Linked DNA regions of Homo sapiens. The protein of the gene in region 1 interacts with the protein of each later gene in a biochemical or structural test. Each region holds a gene or a part of one and is shown on either strand. Other genes may lie near its edges. The genes, in order: PAICS and UBE3A.

Region 1 (3,831 bases):
ACCTTACCTATGAAATAAAAGCTTTTTCTTTATCATTCTTGCCAATTCTAATTTTATAATTTAATAACTTTCCTTACTTTTAATTCCAATATTCCCAGTTGCCCTTTCATTTCTTAGAGTTTCTGGTAGCACTAATCTTTCTTAAATTCAACAGGGGATTTAATGCTTTTGTTTTCAGTTAAGTTAGATGTACGTGCCTTCCACAAAATAACAAGGTAATGTAATTTAAATACATTGTCAGTGCATTCTTGGCGTAGTTTTGTCTCTTCCAAAGTATCCTATTTCACAATTTTGATTAATGTGAAAAAGATTTAATTGCAAACCTGGATTGTCATCTACATCATAAATTCCTCTATGCTGTGAAAGTGAGTGTATTGCTGTAAATTTAAAGGATCTTCCAGAGTTCCTAAGTCACAGAATCTAAGATTTTTATTTCAAGGTTTCTTGATTGGTAGCTTCCCAATGACTGAGGTAATTTCTAAAGAGAGCATCAAATTAATTTTGGGTTCCTTTTGCAATACCGATAAGTGTTCCATCTATTTATTTATTTTATTTTTTTATTTATTTTAAGTCAGAATCTTGCTTTGTTGCCCAGGCTGGAGTGCAGTGGCACAATCTCGGATTACTGCAACCTCCATCTCCTGGGTTCAAGCGATTCTCATGCCTCAGCCTCCCCAGTAGCTGGGATTACAGTTATAGGTGCACGCCACCATACCCGGCTAATTTTTGTATTTTTAGTAGAGACGAGGTTTTGCCATATTGGCCAGGCTGGTTTCGAACTGCTGGCCTTAAGTGATCCACCCGCATTGGCCTCCCAAAGTGCTGGGATTACAGGCGTAAGCCACCACACCCGGCCTGTTCCATCGATTTTTTTTTTTCTTCCCAAGTTTTAACTCTCCCCATTCACTTAAACATTTTTTAAAGTGCTTAACTCTTTAAAATGTTAGCAGTCAGAAGATTACTTTCTGTGTACCCTTGGTAGTTTCACATAGCTACAGGATTATATTAAGTAATGGAAGATAAAGCCTGACTTTTTATTTGCTTATTTAGTGTATTTTCTGAGTGTATTTACACTCATCCCATTATCCATTTCCAGAACTTTATAACAAGTAAATTAGAGTGACTCAGTTGTGTTATGTTTGTCCAGGACTTTCTGCTTTAATTCTGAAGAGTCCTGTGATCAGGGGAACAGGGAAGGATGGTTACCTAAATGAAATACTCCAATAATTATCTTTAAACTACTTTATTTGGCACTTAACATAGCTAAAACTTAACTGGTTCACAGGAAATGTTGAAAGATATTTTCCAGATTTTATGTCTAGTACTATGAAACTAAGTAAACCTGAATTTTTTAAAATTTCTAAACAGACTAGTTTTAGGGTACATATTAGGAATTCCATTAAACCTTATGTAATTTTTACTTGCTTAGTCAAATAAATGCCTTATCTAGTTGGCCATCAGTGGTCTATTTAAAACTGTTTTCTTTACAACCTGGGTTGTGTTCCAAATTAAGGTAGAAAGTAGAGAGGAAAGAGCATTGGAATGAGAATCAGAAAATCAGGATTCTACTTTTCTCATTGTCACTCAGGAACAAACTGTAAAGGACTATATAAATAAGAAGTAATCTTTTTCCGTGGAAATAGTATAACTGTGTTATAACTGTGTTATACAATTTGTGGATTTGGTTTTATTACTTAAAAATTAAAATCTGGCCTTCTTAGTGATGATGAAATCCCAATTTCCTCACAGAAACTCACTATAATTACATTAAGTGTAATACTAGTATATGAAGAACGGTACTACAGTTGCTAAACCACAGATGGGCATCTGGACCAATCTAAAAGAGGGATGGCCACGGGGACATATGTATTAGCTAGAATTACTATTCTAGCTAATATATGTTCATTGTAATCCAGAGTGTGTCAGTGACATAAACATTTTTTAGTAACCTGAATGAGAGTTTTGAGCTTTGTAGACAACTAAGATAAACAATGGGAATTTTTTTCTCACCATGCACAGTCATGGAATTTGCTTTCATATTTAGCAGTATTAGAAGCCATCATTATGTCATCTAAACTGAGTCTGTTTTAGAAACTTTTAGGGATTTTTTGTGCAGAGATGATTACTGTAGCTTCATTATGTGCTTTTGGTTCTCCTTGGGATTGGCGGGGGGATCTCTCTAAGACGAAGTTATCTTTATATTAAAAACAATAAAATTGGATACTACTGTGTCCAGCTTGGTAGACAAATGAGCAAATATGTGACTAATGATTAACAGATCTAAGAGAGAAGAGCTCTTGAAACCAAGGATGTAGTTACCACCCCAAGTTGAGAATTGATTGAAGTCACCTGTCTATCCATGAGCCTGATCATTCATTAAAAGTTAAACAACAGATTGCATCTAATTTTTTTTTAAAGGTTAAAATGACAGTTTTACTTCCCCTCTTTTCATTTTTTCCTTAGGGTTTCTGTTCATGCAACATACCACAATTCTTTCTTTTTTTCATTTGAGTCTTACGAGTCAGATTCAAAGAGAGGGCAGAGGAAATAGTGTAGGGTTTGGACAGTGCGTTTCAAGTCCAGGCTCCATTACCAAATGGCTACATGACCTAGTGTGTGAAATTACTTCTTTGAGCCTCTGTTTTTTTCACTGTAAAATGTATAAATAATAATACCTACTTCAAGGCCAGGCGCGGTGGCTCACACCTGTAATCCCAGCACCTTGGGAGACTAAGGTGGGCAGATCACGAGATCAGGAGTTCCTGACCAACATGATGAAACCCTGTCTCTACTAAAAATACAAAAATTAGCCAGGCGTGGTGGTGCACACCTGTAATCCCAGCTACTCAGGAGGCTGAGGCAGGAGAATCTCTTGAACCCAGGCGGCGGAGGTTGCAGTGAGCCAAGATCACGCCACTGCACTCCAGCCTGTGTGACACTTTGTCTCAAAAAAAAACCAAAAAAACAAAAAAACCTACCTCAAAATTTTATGCACAGTTAAATGAGACAACATATATAAGACACTTAGCACAGTGGAGGATTTCCATAAATAGAAGCTCCCTTCATGTACAGATACACATATAACAGCAAAGATCCCCAATTCTTTCCTGATAATAAAAGTTAGACTAGAGGATTAGGTTGGGATTGGAAATAGTAATGCAGGCTGAAAATAAGCATTATCTCAAACCCATGTAGGTTTCCAGGAGATATTTTAAATCATGTTAATGCTGTAGCATTACTTTGTACTGTGATGTAATAACACTTCCAGGAGAGGCAATACAGCAAAGTGGTTAAGTGGGCGGCTCCTAGAGACAGGGTAGGTTGGAAATCCTGCTATACCTAATACTAGCTGACATTACTACTGTGTCTTAGTGTCCTTACCTGTTTTGTTGATCTTAATAGTATCTTATCAAATGTTATGAGGATTAAACAAAAAAGATGTATTTAAAATGGTTGGAACAATATCTGCCATAAAATAGGCTCCTGATATTTTTTAAAAGAAAATTGTGATAAATACATAAAATTTACCAGTTTGACCATTTTTAAGTGTCCAATTCAGTGGCATTATGTGCATTCACAATGTTGTACATTCATCCCATTATCCATTTCCAGAACTTTTTCATCATCCCAAACAAACTGTGTAGCATTAAACAATAACTATTCCTCCCACTCCTCAGCCCTTGGTAACTTCCATTCTCTTTTCTGTCTGAATTTGCCTATTCTAGTTACCTCATATAAGTCAAATCGTAAGTATTTGTTCTTTTGCATTTTGTGTTTTTCATTTAGCCTAGTGTTTTTAAGCTTCATCCATATTATATAGCATGGATGTAT
Region 2 (3,831 bases), on another chromosome or scaffold:
TCCTGGTTTTCCAGATGGGGTTGCCATTTGTTCCTTTTCTTTCCTCCACAAGATAATTTTAGTGTATCTGTTTAAGAATATAAGAGTGGCCAGAAGACAGAAAGCAGTCGTCAGTCACATTTCACCAAAATTTACATTTGTCTCAGGTGCATTATCGCAGAGCTTTATTGTATTTCTAGTATTAGCTATCCCTGTCATTGCTGCTACTTTTTTATCATCTTCAAGTAAAATTTAATGTCAACAAAAATTAAGGTAGTTAATAATACTATAGTATACTAGTAAAGTTGTCTGACACAGACAACTAGGAAATGTGATTTTTACTTTAAAATGTATTTTAGTTTTAGAATGTCTAAATTTTAGTTTTAGAATTGTCTAAATTCGAGAATTCATAAAGCTGTAGCCCGGTGGAAAAAGTTATTTGACATCTCAGAAATTAAAAATTGCAGAGATTTTGTGTGTTTTTTTTTTTTTTGTTACTGGTTTGTTTTTTTTTTTTAATGTCAGATATGTTTATAGTGTTGGAGAAAGATTCTGCATTATTTAAGCAACTCAGGTGGTTTTCTAGCAGAGACAAAAGGGGGCTTTAACTGCCTGAAGTCATTATTATTGCTTGCTTTCTGGTACCCTTTTTATTTCACTTACATAGTTTTGAGACACATGAATAATTAATACACTTAATGACTGATCATAAGGCAGCCAGCACCTTACTTTACATAGTTTAGCAGAATGATAGGGTATTTTATAAGAATGTGAGTGATGTTTTATGAAAGGTATGTTGAGGTCTGTCTATGACTATCCATTGTTGGAGCAGAACTGCAAATGCCAAAGCTACATACTTTATGTTTGGCTTCTTGAGGTGAGATCCCTTCAGCTGTCTTCATCAAAAGCTATGTCTAGCCTTTAAAAGGCAATGAAATTACACTGTAAGAATCATTCCAGGGTTCAAAAAATTGTCTACCTTCCTTATCTGTCTTTCGCTCAGAAGTCTACTCAGTCTTATTTTCCTCAGTCCCCCATTTTTTTCTCTAGTAAAGCAAGACTAAAAACAAAAGTTTAAGTACTTGGTATATACTTTATTCTATATTTTAAATTCTATTCTAGAATTTTAAGGAAACAACTGCTTTTAAAGCCTTAGGTGTTAGTGTAAAATTAACTGTGAGCTCTTTAATTATGGTAACTTGTTTTTAGCAAGTTCTGCTTAATTATATCAAAATTAGATAATATAGTGTGGCCTATCATAAATCAGGATTCACTAGATAGTATATGTACTTGAATATTGCCAGCCCACAAAAGCAGTTCACTTCAGAAATCATGTGTGTTAGGCAGTTTAATAAACTGTGAAAATAGAAAGAGATGATGCTTACAGAGAAGCTTCCTTAGGGGCTCTGAATGCTCACACTAAGCAGATTTTACTCTTAACTTTCTTTCTCCCTTGCTTTTTCTTCCTTTTCTTTTTTTTAAAAAAATAACAGAATGTGAAAAGACTAGAAAAACCAGCATCGAAATAGGTCTTATAAGTAAAATTGATAACCTGTGTAATTTTTTGAAGTAAGTATTCACAGCAGGTGATGATTATGATAAAGCCACATATTTTAGTAACACATAGTAGAAGTTCTATAATAGAAAGTGGTTTAAGATTATTCTCTCATATGAAAGCTCAAAAGTGATGAATTTTTCAAGATCTTATTTCCCAAGGATCTCTGCTTTTTAAGCCTCATTCTTATATATCACAGTGAACAAACTAGTGGCCACTTTTTTATGACTTGCTAATTTTGGAATTGTATAGCAGGGTTGGGTGGAAAAGAAGAAATGAGAAACTTTGTGGTAAGCTTAATATTGATAAATAAAATTATGGGATCCTAGGCTTTAAGAGCTAAAAGAAACCTTAGAGTTATCCACTCCTTAGTTTAGAAATCAAGCCCAGAAAATAGTGACTTCATATATGAGACTCTTGTATGTTTTCTGTTGAGGAGTGGTAACTTGAATTAATAATTGTGGATTTTTTTAAAAAAGAAAAATATATTCATTGCTTTTATATATTGTGAAATTCAAACCAGACTAGCAGCTTTTTTCCTGAGGTTTTTAGAGAAATTGTCTTTGATGACAAGAGAAGAATTCATGTTGATAGTATTTTCACTAATCTCTGATTGTAGGAAACACTATCATTTTATTACTGCTAAGACAGAAAAATACCAGCAATTCATTGTAAGATGCTATCATTTGTATGGTGTAATCTGATTTCAGAGATAATGTGAAAAAAGTGAATTTTAGAATCAATAGAATATAAGTTGTCTCTTCACAAATACCTTAGAACTGCTTAAGAACACCCCCACCCTACCCGTTTAACTTACTGCCATAGTTCCCCTAGGACTTATTTTCAGTATTTTTTCGTTATTGTTCCTTAGAAAACAGTACAGTGATAAACATGAGCTTAGACTTCACCTTTCATTTGAATGACATTCCTAATGTGATGAGGTTTTTACAAATATGTAAAACCATATTTACAAATTTACATTTTTAATATAAATATGTAATTTAATTTAATATGTAAATTAATTTAATTTAAATATGTAAATATTTACATATTTACAAATATGCAAATATTTACATATTTACAAATATGTAAATATTTACATATTTACAAATATGTAAATATTTACATATTTACAAATATGTAAATATACCCATTTGTGTGTTCTTTTACAAGTAGATAATTTCTCATTTTTCTTAGATGAAGCACTTCCAATGATAGTATGTATTAAGATTTTTTAAATTACTTCTTAAAGGAGAAGATAGAGGTTATAAGTTTATGGAAGAATATAGTATTGCCATCATGAGGTCCCTCAAACTGCCTTCACATCTGAATGGGAAAATTGTTTAAAAAAAATAAATAAATAAATAAATAAAATCCAGGGCCCTAACCTCTAGAGGTTTAGATTAGAAGCTGTATTGTAGAGCCTATGAATCTGAACTTCTGGTAATACTCCACAAATATTTTGATAAAGCCAGACTCCAATATTTGGGAAGATGGCCTTTGGTTCAGCTCAGGTGGGGGTGTGTGTGCATGTGTGTTTATGTGTGTATGTGTGCATATATAGAGAGAAAGAGAAAGGCCATTTTGATATACAAGTATGTTTATGTGTTTTGGAAACTCAGATTTTTAAGAGGATCATGGGGACAGCAAGCTTGGAATAGAGGATGATGATGATGTGAAACTTGGTTCCAATTAGTCAGGGAGTTCTAGCATTTCACATAAATATCTAAAAACCAAAAGGAATGGCTGAGATGTGGAATTGAATAGGGAAGTTCAAAAATAGGAATTAGCACAGATAAAGGTGATTGGCACAGATAAAAAGCCCCACTACCAGGAGGTTCTGCAAAATCCCCTCTAAAAGTCACTGGCCCTTTTTATCTGGTTTCTAATAGCCTAGTCTAACCCAGCTTCCAGCATTTTCAGCTCCCAGCTTCCAGCATTGGTGAACACTCTTACTAGTGAAACATGAACGTAATTCTTTTATTTATTCATTGACTCACAGAGCTTTAAAAATGAGATTATTCTGTGCTGCACTAGGTATGTTTAATTTTGTCTTACACATACACTATATTGTGGTTAACATGTAATTTCCATTGTTCTTTCTTGTGATTTATTCTAATTGAAATCAAAAATGAAACCAAGAAATATGCTTGGTTTATGCCCTCAAAGTAATTTCTCAGAAACTGAATGAGAGAATGAAGCCTATATATACATAGATCCTCAGCATTATATAATAATTTAAGACAATGAAACATCAAACTTAGTATTACATGTGAGGAAAATGAAATCTAAAAGAG

The links.
Region 2: the proteins of PAICS (region 1) and UBE3A form a complex in vitro, tested with the Homo sapiens proteins (one large-scale study listed by BioGRID).

Annotation. Positions count from the first base shown.
Region 1 is NC_000004.12:56,442,632-56,446,462, forward strand, and holds part of PAICS (bifunctional phosphoribosylaminoimidazole carboxylase/phosphoribosylaminoimidazole succinocarboxamide synthetase), read left to right. Parts: intron 1-3,725; coding exon of another isoform or gene 3,726-3,746; intron 3,747-3,831. UniProt on the Homo sapiens protein: Bifunctional phosphoribosylaminoimidazole carboxylase and phosphoribosylaminoimidazole succinocarboxamide synthetase catalyzing two reactions of the de novo purine biosynthetic pathway.
Region 2 is NC_000015.10:25,366,016-25,369,846, reverse strand, and holds part of UBE3A (ubiquitin-protein ligase E3A), read left to right. Parts: intron 1-3,831. UniProt on the Homo sapiens protein: E3 ubiquitin-protein ligase which accepts ubiquitin from an E2 ubiquitin-conjugating enzyme in the form of a thioester and transfers it to its substrates.